4 linked regions of the Homo sapiens genome follow. The protein of the gene in region 3 purifies or fractionates together with the protein of the main gene of each other region. This does not show direct contact. Each region holds a gene or a part of one and is shown on either strand. Other genes may lie near its edges.

The links. The genes of interacting proteins can lie anywhere in the genome.
Region 1: the proteins of MPST (region 3) and SRI fractionate together in Homo sapiens (co-fractionation; one large-scale study listed by BioGRID). This does not show direct contact.
Region 2: the proteins of MPST (region 3) and GLRX5 fractionate together in Homo sapiens (co-fractionation; one large-scale study listed by BioGRID). This does not show direct contact.
Region 4: the proteins of MPST (region 3) and PPA2 fractionate together in Homo sapiens (co-fractionation; one large-scale study listed by BioGRID). This does not show direct contact.

The regions. Positions count from the first base shown.
Region 1 is NC_000007.14:88,207,327-88,210,038, forward strand, and holds part of SRI (sorcin), read right to left. Parts: coding exon 2,657-2,712; intron 2,127-2,656; coding exon 2,013-2,126; intron 1,240-2,012; coding exon 1,181-1,239; coding exon of another isoform or gene 1,163-1,180; exon of another isoform or gene 869-1,162; intron 1-868. UniProt on the Homo sapiens protein: Calcium-binding protein that modulates excitation-contraction coupling in the heart. Contributes to calcium homeostasis in the heart sarcoplasmic reticulum. Modulates the activity of RYR2 calcium channels.
Region 2 is NC_000014.9:95,538,050-95,541,549, forward strand, and holds part of GLRX5 (glutaredoxin-related protein 5, mitochondrial precursor), read left to right. Parts: intron 1-3,500.
Region 3 is NC_000022.11:37,022,742-37,026,241, forward strand, and holds part of MPST (3-mercaptopyruvate sulfurtransferase), read left to right. Parts: intron 1-1,010; exon of another isoform or gene 1,011-1,186; intron 1,187-1,450; coding exon 1,451-2,069; intron 2,070-3,500. UniProt on the Homo sapiens protein: Transfer of a sulfur ion to cyanide or to other thiol compounds. Also has weak rhodanese activity. Detoxifies cyanide and is required for thiosulfate biosynthesis. Acts as an antioxidant.
Region 4 is NC_000004.12:105,397,563-105,401,062, forward strand, and holds part of PPA2 (inorganic pyrophosphatase 2, mitochondrial isoform 1 precursor), read right to left. Parts: intron 1,603-3,500; coding exon 1,475-1,602; intron 1-1,474.

The DNA.
Region 1 (2,712 bases), on a different chromosome or scaffold from region 3:
GCATGTTAAAGAGAACACACCCTTAAGCAGGTAAAATAAGCATATTCACACACACATACTAAGCTTTTAAAAGTGTACTTATAACTGCAGCAGCTGCTAAACCAAAAATACATGCATCTTATATTTTGTAATGGAGAATGGAATATTCAGTGATTACAGTCATTTCAATTCTACAAGTTTTTTTGTTTGTTTGTTTTTTGTTTTTAAATCAATGGCTGAGCAAAAACTGAAGAAACAAGTAACCAATCTCTCTAGCTTTGTTATATACATCCAGCTAATGCCATCAAAGATGGCACTAGGTTATGTTCACACTGATTACATGGCCTTACCCTACCCTTGTTTAGTTTGGCTGTTTAGTAAATAACTTGTTTTAAATTGTGATTTAGCCGGGAGCAGTGGCTCACGCCTGTAATCCCAGCACTTTGGGAGGCCTAAGCGGACAGATCACAAGGACAGGAGATCGAGACCATCCTGGCTAACACAGTGAAACCCCGTCTCTACTAAAAATACAAAAAAACTTAACCAGGTATGGTGGCACATGCCTATAGTCCCTCAGGAGGCTGAGGCAGGAGAATCGCTAGAACCCGAGACGTGGAGGTTGCAGTGAGCTGACATTGCGCCACTGCACTCCAACCTGGGCAACAGAGCGAGACTCCATCTCAAAAAAAAAAAAAAAATTGTGATTTAAGTTGTTGCCTGCCTTATGCCCTCAATGAAGAACATAGGTATGCAAAACTATTGAGCTGTTATCTATTCTCAGTGACTGACATGATTTGTTTACAGAAGACAAAAGCAGATAGTATATCTGCATAGTGTTTTTCAAGGGCATTTCTAATAGAAATCTTACAATGGCTCAGTGAAAAAGGCATTACTACTATATCTTCTTTATTCATATAGTGTCACAGCAATTAAGAAACCTGCTTAAGTGACCCAGCTAATAAATACAACAAGCTGGGTCTTGAACCCAGGTCTCTGAATGCAAATCAAATCATGGTCTCACTATAGTTAAGACTAATAAATGAAATTAATAAATTCTGGATGATAACTCTTTCTAACTTTTGAATCCCTTATGTCTCTGGCATCCTTAACCTTAAGATATTCTTAACAGCTAATTTCAAAGGGATACCCATCTGGTGTACATCCTTTTCATCTACTGTATCTCTTAATTTCTAAGACTTACATCATCATATGGGAAATTCACAACACCTTGCTGAGCAGTATCCCGTCTTCGAAAGCTGTCTGTAAAACAACACAGTAAAATTTATGGTTTTTCTTTAAATGGTTTTTCTAAAATCATAAAAGTTAGTTATTTTGGCATTGAATTCACATTGCAGTAACATTTAAATTGTGCAACCAATTAACATAAACAAAAGACCAAAGCAAAGAAGCCAACTATATGAATAGTAAAAGATTTAATATGCAACAAAGTAACAGGCAGAAGTTGGCCAGCTGTGTTTTTTGTTTTTTTGTTTTTTTAGATCTGGAGAAAATACCTTACCCAAAGTCAGTAAAAGCTGTGCAACTTCCATGGCCATTACTTCATTGTGATAAAAGCACCGAATTTCTAGCTTCTTAATAACAAAGATACTGCTTAAGAAACAGATAAAGAGTCCCCAATATAACAAATGGGCTGTAATCAGTTTCTCTACCATTTCAGCTCTGCCCTATAGAAAAGGATTTTATTTTAATTTCACTCTTTCCAAATATTTCACATTCTGGGGAAAAATTCATTATTATCTGATCAAAAATGCACAAGTTAGCTGATTGTGTTTTAGAACATTTTAGTAAAATTTAATTGTTTATTTTAATGGCAGATTACTTACTAATCTAAAATAAATTCTGGAAAAAAAACCAAAAAATTATTTTGCCAGATATGCTTAATAGTAATCTGAAAAAAACTACTAAAGCAAGAAAAAATTTGGGAAGAATAAAAGTTGAGAAGCACTGAGAGATGAAATGTAATAAAAACTGTGTCTTGGCTTGTGGTGATGACACGACCTTATAGAACTCACCTGTAAGAGCCCTCAGTTTGACGCAGCAGGCGATGTAGTCGTCGAAGGTGATCTTTCCATTGGTGCTGTATCGTTTTGCAATTGAATTCACAGCCTGGGGACTCAACCTAAATCCTAAAAGAAAAGCCATCCAGTAAAAAGGTTAAAGGATTGCAGAAGCTCATTAAAAAATAAAATAATCAAGCACTATTTTATTTTTTAAGACTGCAGACTCATATTAATTATGAACACACACAATTTCTAAGAAAACAGAAACTGCCTTCAGGTAGCAATTATTTATTTATTTATTTATTTACGAGAGGGAGTCTCACTCTCGCCCAGGCTGGAGTGCAGTGGTGTGATCTCGGCTCACAGCAACCTCTGCCTCCTGTGTTCAAGTGATTCTCCTGTCTTAGCCTCCCGAGTAGCTGGGACTGCAGGTGCATGCCACCACGCCCAGCTAATGTTTCTGTATTTTAGTAGAGTCGGGGTTTTACTGTGTTGCCCAGGCTGGTCTCGAACTCCCGAGCTCAGGCAATCCACCCTCCTTGGCCTCCCAAAGTGCTGGGATTACAGGTGTGAGCCACTGCACCCAGCCTGGTTTTAAAAATAAAAATCAACTTACTTCTACCAATGAATGGAGAGTTCTAGTAAGCCATACCTACCCATTGTTGTCAGGGCCTTCTGCAATTCTTGTGGGTCTACTGTTCCACTCCTGTCA
Region 2 (3,500 bases), on a different chromosome or scaffold from region 3:
TAATTTATGGAAACTATTGTATTAACATTTAGATCTAGTTCCTAACAGTTTTTTTTTTTTTAACACATTGAGACCATGCTTGTCTATACATAGTATTTTGCCCTCCAGAGACGAGGGAATATGTCTTATGCCACTGCCTGTGGTGCTGTGTGTACCGCTTATGCAAAGCAAGCTTTCAGTGAGCATTTTAATAAATAAATAAATACTGCTTTTATTTATCATTATATTGCAAACTCTGCGGCCTTAAAGGCATTATAAACATTTGCTGCCGATTTAGATCATCATTGTAGTCCTTGCATCTGGAACAGTGACAGAATAGGGACTCAAATGATTTGTTGAATAAATAACCATATCCTGTTGTTGAATGTTTATTAAGCATTTGAAAATACGCTCCACCTTTTCAGTATCAGGGAATTGAAGACAGTAGTGAAACATGTCATGCTGGTGAACCTTAAAAGTTGGATAACAAGTTGTGTGTATGTGCTTGTGTGGTGCACATGTATGCTGCAGATGGGAGTATAAAATGGTACCAACACTTTGGAGGAGTAACTATCAGTACCCAGTCAAGCTATGGGTGAACAGAGCCTAAGACCCAGCTGCGTGACTCCTAGGTATATATTCTAGAGAGGGGGATCTGCAAACTTACCCTAGTAAAGGGCCAGAGACTAAGTACGTCAGGCTTTGTGGGCTGTGTGGTTTTTGTTGCATCTATTCAACTCTGCTGTTATATAGCCTGAAGTCAGTCATGGGCAATATGTAGATGAATGAGCAGGCTGAGTTTCAATAAAACTTTATTTATGAAAATACAGCTTTAATTACGAAGTAGACTGGATTTGGCCTGAAGACCATAGTTTATCTGTCCCTGGCCTAGAGACTGACTTCTGCATGTGTGTGTTAGGACATGGGTCCCCAACCCCCAGGCCAGGGATCGAGGACTTACAGCAGGAGGTAAGCGGTGGGTAAGTGAGCTTTACCGCCTGAGCTCCGCCTCCTGCCACATCAGTGACGACATTAGGTTCTCATAGGAGCACAAACTCTATTGTGAACTGCACATGTGAGGAATCTAGGTTGTGCGTTCCTTACGAGAATGTAACTAATGCCTGATGATGTGAGGTGGAACCGTTTCATCCCGAAGCTATCCCCACCCTTCCCTGGTCCGTGGAAAAATTGTCTTCCACAAAACCAGTCCCTGGTGCCAAAAAGGTTGGGGACCTCTGTGTTAGGATACCTGTGTTGGCGCGTTCATTGCAGCATGGCTTGCAATAATGAAAAACTGACAGGAAGGGATCTTGGTCTATTAGCAGCAGACCAGATAAATAAACTTTAGTCACATGATGGAAAGCTAAACTGTAGTTAAAATGAACTAGATCTAGATGTATTTAACATGGCTGAATCTCAAAAATACAATATTTAGTCAAAAAGCAAGTTGCAAACACGTAATTATGGCATAATACCATTTGTATATGTAAATGTTAAAGGCATAAAACAGTCCCATATATTGCAGATATGTGTGCAGTGCACTTGTAGCTCCTGGGCAGGAGTGAGATGGCAGCTAGAGGGTAGAGGCCACCTCTGGTGAGGGACTCAGGTAGCATGTGGTTAAGAGTCTGGGCTTTTGTACTCCTGGAAGCCTGGATATAAATCCTGGTTTCACTGCGCTGTCACTGTGAGTTTCGGTAAGTTACTTAACCCTTCTGAGCCTTAGTTTCTTCATCTTATGTAAAGTAGGGATAATTGTACCTGCCTTGTCAGATTTTTGTAAAGATTAAATAAGATTATTTTTGTAAAACGCTTAAAGAGTATGAAACTCAGTAATCCTTAACTCAATAAATGGTATATATATATATATTTTTTTTTTTTTGAGAGAGTGTTACTCTGCTGCCTAGGCTGAAGTGCAGGGGGCAATCTCGGCTCACTGCCACCCCTGCCTCCCGGGTTCAAGCGATTCTCCTGCCTCAGCCTCCCAAGGAGCTGGGATTGCAGGCACCTGGCACCATGCCTGGCTAATTTTTTTTATTTTTAGTAGGGACAGGGTTTCACCATGTTGGCCAGGCTGGTCTTGAACTCCTGACCTCAGGTGATGCACCAGCCTTGGCCTCCCAAAGTGCTGGGATTACAGGTGTGAGCCACCGCACCTGGCCTGAATGGCGTTTTCATTACTTTAGGGTATACTTAATCACTTTTTCCTGCTTTATTTTCCTATGCTTTTTCTGTTGCCTTTCTCAGAAAAGCATTACTGTGAAGGGTGGGTGGTGGAGCATGTTGGTATGGAGAGAATGTCCACACTGTACCTGGTACTATGCTGGGAGCTCAATTCATTTCATTCCTTAGATATCATGGAATCTTCATAATATGTGAGGCGTAGAGTATATTCCCATTTTACAGATGAGGAAACTGAGGCTAAAAGATTAACAGATTTGTCTGAGGCTACATTTACAGGCTAGCAAACCAGATCTACTGATCCTTAAGCCTGTGCCTTGCCCACTCTGCCCCGTGCCTTGCTTTTCCTCTAGTGAGGGTCTACTGATTTCCGTGCTTTCAGCTCAGATCATCTTATCTCGACTTAACGCCATTCTCTAAATTAGAGAATATGAAGAAATTGTGACTCTCAGAGGTGGTGTAACTTGCCCAAGATCACAGAGTCTAGTAGGTAAGAGACAGAGTTGGAACTCATATCAGATTCTGAAGCTACTGTAGTGAGGTTCTACCAGGAAAAATAAAAAGAAAGAAAACTATGATTATGCTGCTCTCGTAATTTAGTGTCCAAATCAGGAGTAATGCCCAGTGTTCTGAATGTGATGAATTTTGAAAAATACCTTTTGAAAGTTCTGGAAGGGAATTTTAAAGTATCATTTCTGTACTCTTTCTGGGTTGATACTTTGGAATATGAATTTGTTTGTATGGGTTTTTTTGGTGGAGCATTAGATGCGTGTAAACTGACTTTGTAAGATAGCCTCCTAACTCCCAGTTCCTAGTGTTACTCTGCCATATAACTTTGCAGTCAGCATTTTCTGCCCCAGATGGAATCACCACCGTCTATCACATATGAAATAATGATTATCATTAAAATTCATTCTTGGATGTGATTTTCTAATTTTCAGGAGTAGCTCTCTGATTCTGAGTTAATTTCAAGTGATATTTGTAAGAACTACCACTGCATATTGCAGTTTTTGAAAACTAAAGTGTGAGAGAGATTAACCATGTGTAAACAGTTACTTGTGGATCCGCAGGATTCATTTTAATATTCAACTTATGAAGAGTAGTCTTTTATTATTATTAGGAGTTTCTCACTTCACTCTATAGGAAGCAATTGGGTATTTCCTTAAATATTTAAACTGGTAATCAACTTTCTTAAAAATGGAAAAGAGCATAGTCATTAAGAAGGGTGCCAACGTTTGGCCTTGATGCCAGCTGCCTATTACACCTATTCATCTAAAAATTAAAGAAGCAGCTAAGTTTAATTTTGATAAACCGTCAGCTGCTGTCAAGAACAGGCAGGT
Region 3 (3,500 bases):
CACAGATGTTGTTCTCTACCTGCCCCCTTCATTTCGCTGGCAGGACTGCATGCAGTGGGTGTCAAGGTTGGGCCTCACACAGGGGATAAGTGAGGGCTGATCTGCAGCCCATACTCCACACACCCAGCCATGTGCCCTGGTGGGGGCTCAGCCTCTGCCTGGCAGAAGGGGCCCTTTCCTCTCACCTGCACAACGGTGGCTTCCCAGCACAAAGGGCTTAAAGTGTTTGGGAAGTTTACACCCAGGAAGGCTGTGGGCTGGCCTGGCATAGTGGGCTGGCGAGCTGGTGCACTGTCTCTGGTATGCAGGAAAGATAGAGAGGAGAGGGAGGGAGGTGCGAAGTCACTGTTGCTGCTGCTAGAAGGGCCAGAGAGAGCCCAGGCTGGACAGGCAAAACCTGGCCTCGCCAGACTCCTGGAGCCTGCACAGAGTGTGTGTCTGAGAAGTCCGGATTCTGGTGCCAGACTGACTGCCTAGTGAGAAGCCTGGCACCGCCGGGTCAGGCTAGTGCACTTTTTCTTGTTTGTTTTTTGTTTTTGAGACAGAGTTTTGCTCTTGTTCCCCAGGCTGGATTGCAATGGCACGATCTCGGCTCACTGCAACCTCCGCCTCCTGGGTTCAAGCAGTTCTCCTGCCTCAGCCTCCCGAGTAGCTGGGATTACAGGTGCCCTCCACTAAGCCCGGCTAATTTTTTGTATTTTTGGTAGAGACGGGGTTTCACCATGTTGGCCAGACTGGTTTCAAACTTCTGACCTCAGGTGATCCACCTGCCTGGGCCTCCCAAAGTGCTGGGATTACAAGCGTGAGCCACCGCACCAGGCCAGGTTAGTGCACTTCTGTGAGCCTGAGTGTCCTCCTTGAAACGGTGACAATAATATACCAGGCCTCTTAAGATCACTCATTCAACACATACTGGAGAGTCTACTGTGTCAGGCATTGTTCTAGGATATTGTTAGGATTCAGTGGTACCCAGCAAGGACTCAGTAAATTCCAGCTACTGTTCCTATTAGGTCGCCAATATAAATGCTTGATGAGTGAATGAATGACTTCCGTCTGGGACTTGGTTGCAAATAAAGCCGAGCTGCATCTTAGGGAGGGGTGGAGACTTTGCCCCTGTTTGTGCCTTGAAGCCAGCAGGGCCTTGCCCTAGGATACCTCCACCCACCCTCCTGCCCAGCAAGTGGAGGTGAGGGGCGTGGCCTGGGGCTCTCCGGGAGGTCATGGTCATTGGGTCACTCGGAGCTTGTGTTTATATGAGGCCTGGCAGAGGGAGGCCCCTGGCTACCCACCTTTGTGCCCGGGTTCACCACCACTGGTTTCTGCGTTCCCTGGACTCTGCCCTGCACGGGCCGCACCTCCCCCGCCGGCCCTCGCCCATGCTCCAGCCCCAGCCCTAGCCCCAACAGCGGCCTCTCCCTGCTTCCCTTCTGACATCCTCCCTGTCGCCCAGGCCCGCAGCCCGAGTGTCGCCGCCATGGCTTCGCCGCAGCTCTGCCGCGCGCTGGTGTCGGCGCAATGGGTGGCGGAGGCGCTGCGGGCCCCGCGCGCTGGGCAGCCTCTGCAGCTGCTGGACGCCTCCTGGTACCTGCCGAAGCTGGGGCGCGACGCGCGACGCGAGTTCGAGGAGCGCCACATCCCGGGCGCCGCTTTCTTCGACATCGACCAGTGCAGCGACCGCACCTCGCCCTACGACCACATGCTGCCCGGGGCCGAGCATTTCGCGGAGTACGCAGGCCGCCTGGGCGTGGGCGCGGCCACCCACGTCGTGATCTACGACGCCAGCGACCAGGGCCTCTACTCCGCCCCGCGCGTCTGGTGGATGTTCCGCGCCTTCGGCCACCACGCCGTGTCACTGCTTGATGGCGGCCTCCGCCACTGGCTGCGCCAGAACCTCCCGCTCAGCTCCGGCAAGAGCCAACCTGCTCCCGCCGAGTTCCGCGCTCAGCTCGACCCCGCCTTCATCAAGACCTACGAGGACATCAAGGAGAACCTGGAATCCCGGCGCTTCCAGGTGGTGGACTCCCGAGCCACTGGCAGGTTCCGCGGCACCGAGCCCGAGCCCCGAGACGGTAACGCGGGGGAAGGGGGCAGGAGGTCGTCGGGGGCGCGGCCTCTACGCCCTGAGCAGTGCCCTGGACTTGACCTTTCTTTTATTTTTTTAATTTATCTTGCTTTCATTTCCTTTCCTTTTTTCTTTCCTTTCCTTCCCTTTCCCTTCCCTCCTTTCCCCCTTTTCCCTACCCTTGCCTTCTTTTCACAGGGTCTGGCTCTACCGCCCAGGCTGGAGTGCAGTGGCACAATCATGGCTCACTGCAGCCTCAACCTCCTGGGCTCAGGTGACCCTCCCCGCTCAGCCTGACCTTGCCTTTAAAGGCCACTGCATGAGGTGGGGAAGGAGATTTGACTTCCACTTGCCTCGGTGACTTTGTCTGTTAAGCAGAACCATAATACTGGCCCTTCCCCTCCTGTGCTTTGGGCAGTGACTCTCCCTAGCTCATTGGGAACCCTGGTTGCCCAAACAGCTCTCAATCCAACACTAGAGGTGTGGGGGGTCACTGTGGAATGTTGGGGGGCAGGCCCCAGTATGAGAGAAAAACCCAGAGGGATGGTCCTGATCAGGGCTACCCATGCCCCTGAGGATGGTGGAATGAAGGCAGAGTCGGGGGCTGCATAAAGGAAAGTCTCTTCCAGGGACCAAAGCTTGGAGAACTGAGGGTGGAAGGGGGATTAAACAGAAGTGGGTAGGGCAGAGCCTTCTGCCTGTGGGCTGGATTTCCTCAGGCAAGAAGCCTGTGGGTAAGCTCTGTATAATGCGAGGAGGAGTCCCCACAAAGCAGGCTGGTCAGTGGTCACGCTAGTGTGAGTCTTTCAAACATCCCGTGTAAGTAGATACTGTCATTGCACAGAGGAGGAAATGGAACCTGGCCCAAGGTCTCAAGAAACAACCCAGCCGGGATTCAGACTCGGCAGCCTGCGCACTTAACAGCCGTGAGCAACCAGGAACTCCCCAGCCCTTTCTCTTGTGCCTTCAAGAGTGCAAGAAACTGACCACTGCCCCTAGAGAGCTCTCTGAAGAGCATTCCCATGGCTACAGATTGGGTTTGGAGCCGCTTGGGCTCACCATGGGCCAGCATTGTTTTGGATGGCCTGAGGGCAAGGACTGTCCCTGCTCTTCATGCATCCTGAAGATTAGCTCAGTACCTGGCACAGAGTCGATGTTCCAGAGAGGTTTGGTGAATACAGAAGGTCCCTGTTGCATGGAATCCTGCAAAGCAATGTTGGTGTTACCGGAACCATAGGAAACAGCTGATATCCAACCATTTTTGAACCTACACAGGTGTCAGTTTCATGTGGTTCAGCCTAATGAGAGCACCACCTTAATCCTGTTGGGTTCTCCATCTCAGCCCCAGGGGAATGAGCAACACAGGGGAGCTAGCTGGTGGTGCCAGACTGGGGTTCAGATCCCTGCCACATTTACATGGGCTTTGTGACACACGACG
Region 4 (3,500 bases), on a different chromosome or scaffold from region 3:
GAGGGGATTTGTCCTCTCAAATCTCATGTTCAAATTTGATCCGCAGTGTTGGAAGTGAGGCCTAATGGGAGGTGTATGGATAATGGGGGTGGATCCCTCATGAATGGCTTGGTGCCTCCTCAGAGTAATGAGTGAGTTCTTGCTGTTAGTTCCCACAAGAACTGATTGTTAAAAAGAGCCTGGGCACCTTCCACCTCTCTCACTTGCTTCCTCTCTCACCCTGTGGCATGCCTGCTCCCCCTTCATCTTTTGGCATGACTGGAAGCTTTCTGAGGTTCTTACCAGAAGCAGATGCCAGCACCATGCTTCTGGTATAGCCTGTAGGACTGTGAGCTAAATAAACCTTTTCTTTATAAATTACCCAGCCTCAGCAGTTCTTTCATAGCAATACTAAGGGCACTAAGGCTCTATATTTTAAATAGCAGTAGTAAAAAGCAATGCATAAAACAATTATTTTCTGGTGAAGTTGTATAAATGACCTCATCTTTATACAGAAAAGAATTACTATTTGTTAAAAACAAACAAAAAAAAACTACCTCATTCTTTACAAATTCGTGACTTGGCAGACTTACCCTGAGGCAAAAATACCATATAGGTTTAAAATTTCAATTATCTCAATAATAAAATGAAAATTTTTAAAAGAAAAATAATGTATAAATTTTCAATCCTTTAAGATAATTTAATCTAAAATAATAATTTTATATTTACATTTAATAATCCCAGACAAAGCCCTCAAGATTTGAAGGATTCTTTTAATGTGCTTTCAAAAAAACACTGAGTCCAGCAATCAATTCTTTTACAGCAAAATACCCATTATAAATTTTAAGTTTTCATTAACATGCCTTATTTCACTTATAAAACATACTTACTGGTATCCACTTAAAAGTTGGTTTCAAATATTCAATTTACCTAGTGGTAATAACTTTAAAAAAAATTCCATGCTTTAGACTTTAACTCTTTGGTCTATTCTCTCCATCTGTGTCATATTAGAGATACTTTGTGGTAACTCAGTGGTATTCTAATAGAAAAATCCTATGACAGTAAGATAATTCAGGTGTCCTTTCAATTGTTAAGCAGCTTAGTTCCGTCGTGGTAGAATGAACACTTAGGAGGGAGTCCCCTATGGATTTACATTAAGGGTGAGTAACTTTCTCCTCCACAAAACAGTAAATAGAAAGTTTTTCTATGTACACAATTTGCAAAATTAGTCTGATCATGAAATTCCTTCATTTTCCAAGACGTAGGAGCTATAGACACATAGATGGAAATATATATTTTTCAGCCTTGTTGATTCACTTAGATCTTCTGAAACAGAATTTAAATAATAAAATAATGTTTTTAAATATGTAAGTTAGTAAAAAGCACTTTTTTAACCATGCTATATATACATATTCACATAAGAAACTTCCCAAGTGAAACGAATATTGTACAGGTATCAGGAGGTACATTTTAAAATAAAGATTCTCATCTTCACCTTGTTTTTGAATTCTCCATTAAAAGCAAACTGGTTTTCTGGTTTTCCATCTGGTACCTTATATAATCTAAACCAATTAAGAGTAGCTTCCAGGTAACCCGGTTTGAACTTCTTAACATCATCAATATCTGTAAAGAAAAAAACAAAAAGATGTTTTGTTAAGAACCAAAATTAATTCCCTTTAGTGGCAGAGCATTGGACTGAGGGAGCCAGGAAACATGGGGCCCAGTCTAACCAGAAGCACAATTGATTGTGATACCTAGAGCAGCATCATCATTGATATGTATATCACCTTCAGACTTTTGTGTTTTCATATGTATAATACTATTCCTGCACTCTACAAACATTTACAAAGCATCTTCAGACAATGTGCTATGTATGGGGAATAAATGGATGGATACAACAAAGTTCTTTTCATCAAGATACTCAGTTTTTAACTCAGGGAAAGAGACAAATAGATAAACTGCAATTAAAATGCAATGAGGTTTTAACAGAGATAAACAGAAGCAATGGTAATGTCATAGAAGAGGGAGTAAAAGAAAGCATTATAAAAGTGAGAAGTACATCACTAACTGGACAAGAGGGGAAAAGGTAGAAGGAACAGCACACATAAAAGCAAGGGACTATATTTTAGAATATACAAAGATGGTTCTGCATGGATAGAACATCACTGTTAGGAGGCAGGGGAGAGGGAGGAGACACCTAGGAAAAGCCAGTCACTGAGGATCATATACACAGCAATCTCCCTTTATCCACGGTTTTGTTTTCTGCAGTTTCAGTTACCTACAGTCAACTGAATCCAGAAATATTAAATGGAAAATTCCAGAAATAAACAATTCATAAGTTTTAAATTGCATACCATTCTGAGTAGCCTGATGAAATCTTGCACTGTCCTGCTCCATCCTGTCCAAGACATGAATCATCCCTTTGCCCAGTGTGGCCACATTCTATATACTACCCACCATTAGTCACTTAGTAGCCTTCTCAGTTAGCAGATCCACTGTCTTGATATGGCAGTGCTTGTGTTCAGTTAACCTTTATTTTGCTTCAGAATGGCCACAAAGCACGAGAGTAGTGGTGCTGGTAATTTTATTACAGTATATTGTCACAGCATATTGTATTGTATACAATATATTTATTAGAGCATATTAAAATTATACTGTTTTGTTATAACAAAACAAACAGGGATGTTTTGCAAAAATTAATTAATATTGAGTTCCTTGAACGAACGGTTTTCTTATTCAGAGGGGAAAAAAATCTTTTAGTCTACTGACGGCGAGTGTCTAGAAATGCAATTTAATCAATGCCCAAGATAAATAATTTTCTAGGCCAGGTGTGGTGGCTCATGTCTGTAATCCCAGCACTTTGGGATCACCTGAGGTCAGGAGTTTGAGACCAGTCTGGCCAACATGGTGAAACCCCATATCTACTAAAAATACAAAAAAAATTAGCTGGACATGGTGGTGATTGCCTATAGTCCAAGCTACTCAGGAGGCTGAGGCAGGAGAAATGCATTAGTCCAGGAGGTGGAGGCTGTAGTCAGCCAAGATCACGCCATTGCACTCCAGCCTGGGCAACAAAGCAATAAATAATTTTCTGTTGCTTAAATCTGATTTATGACTTCATCGTTGTACCTTACTCAAACTAACATTTTCTCTTCCACTGTATATAACTTTTACAAATCATATAACTTTTGTATGATTTTTGTTACTTAACTCACTGACTTCCAAGGAGAAAGAGAAAGCTAATTATCTAATATCTACCTCAGTCTAGGAGGCTTTCTCCCCAAAAGTCATAAAGAGGACCCAATAAGCAAAGACACAAATTAGGAAAAAAACTGAAAATTTTATAATGGAAATAAGAAGTATAACTCTCCAAATATAAGCTAAACTTTTCCATTCTCAACTAATTATACCCTAGGAGAAAACAGCTGCATTGTCCCAAATAACAAAACAAAAAAATTACAGTAAGATATTTAAACATTTTTAAAACCTCAATAGCAAATGCCTGAAGCCAAATTCTTATA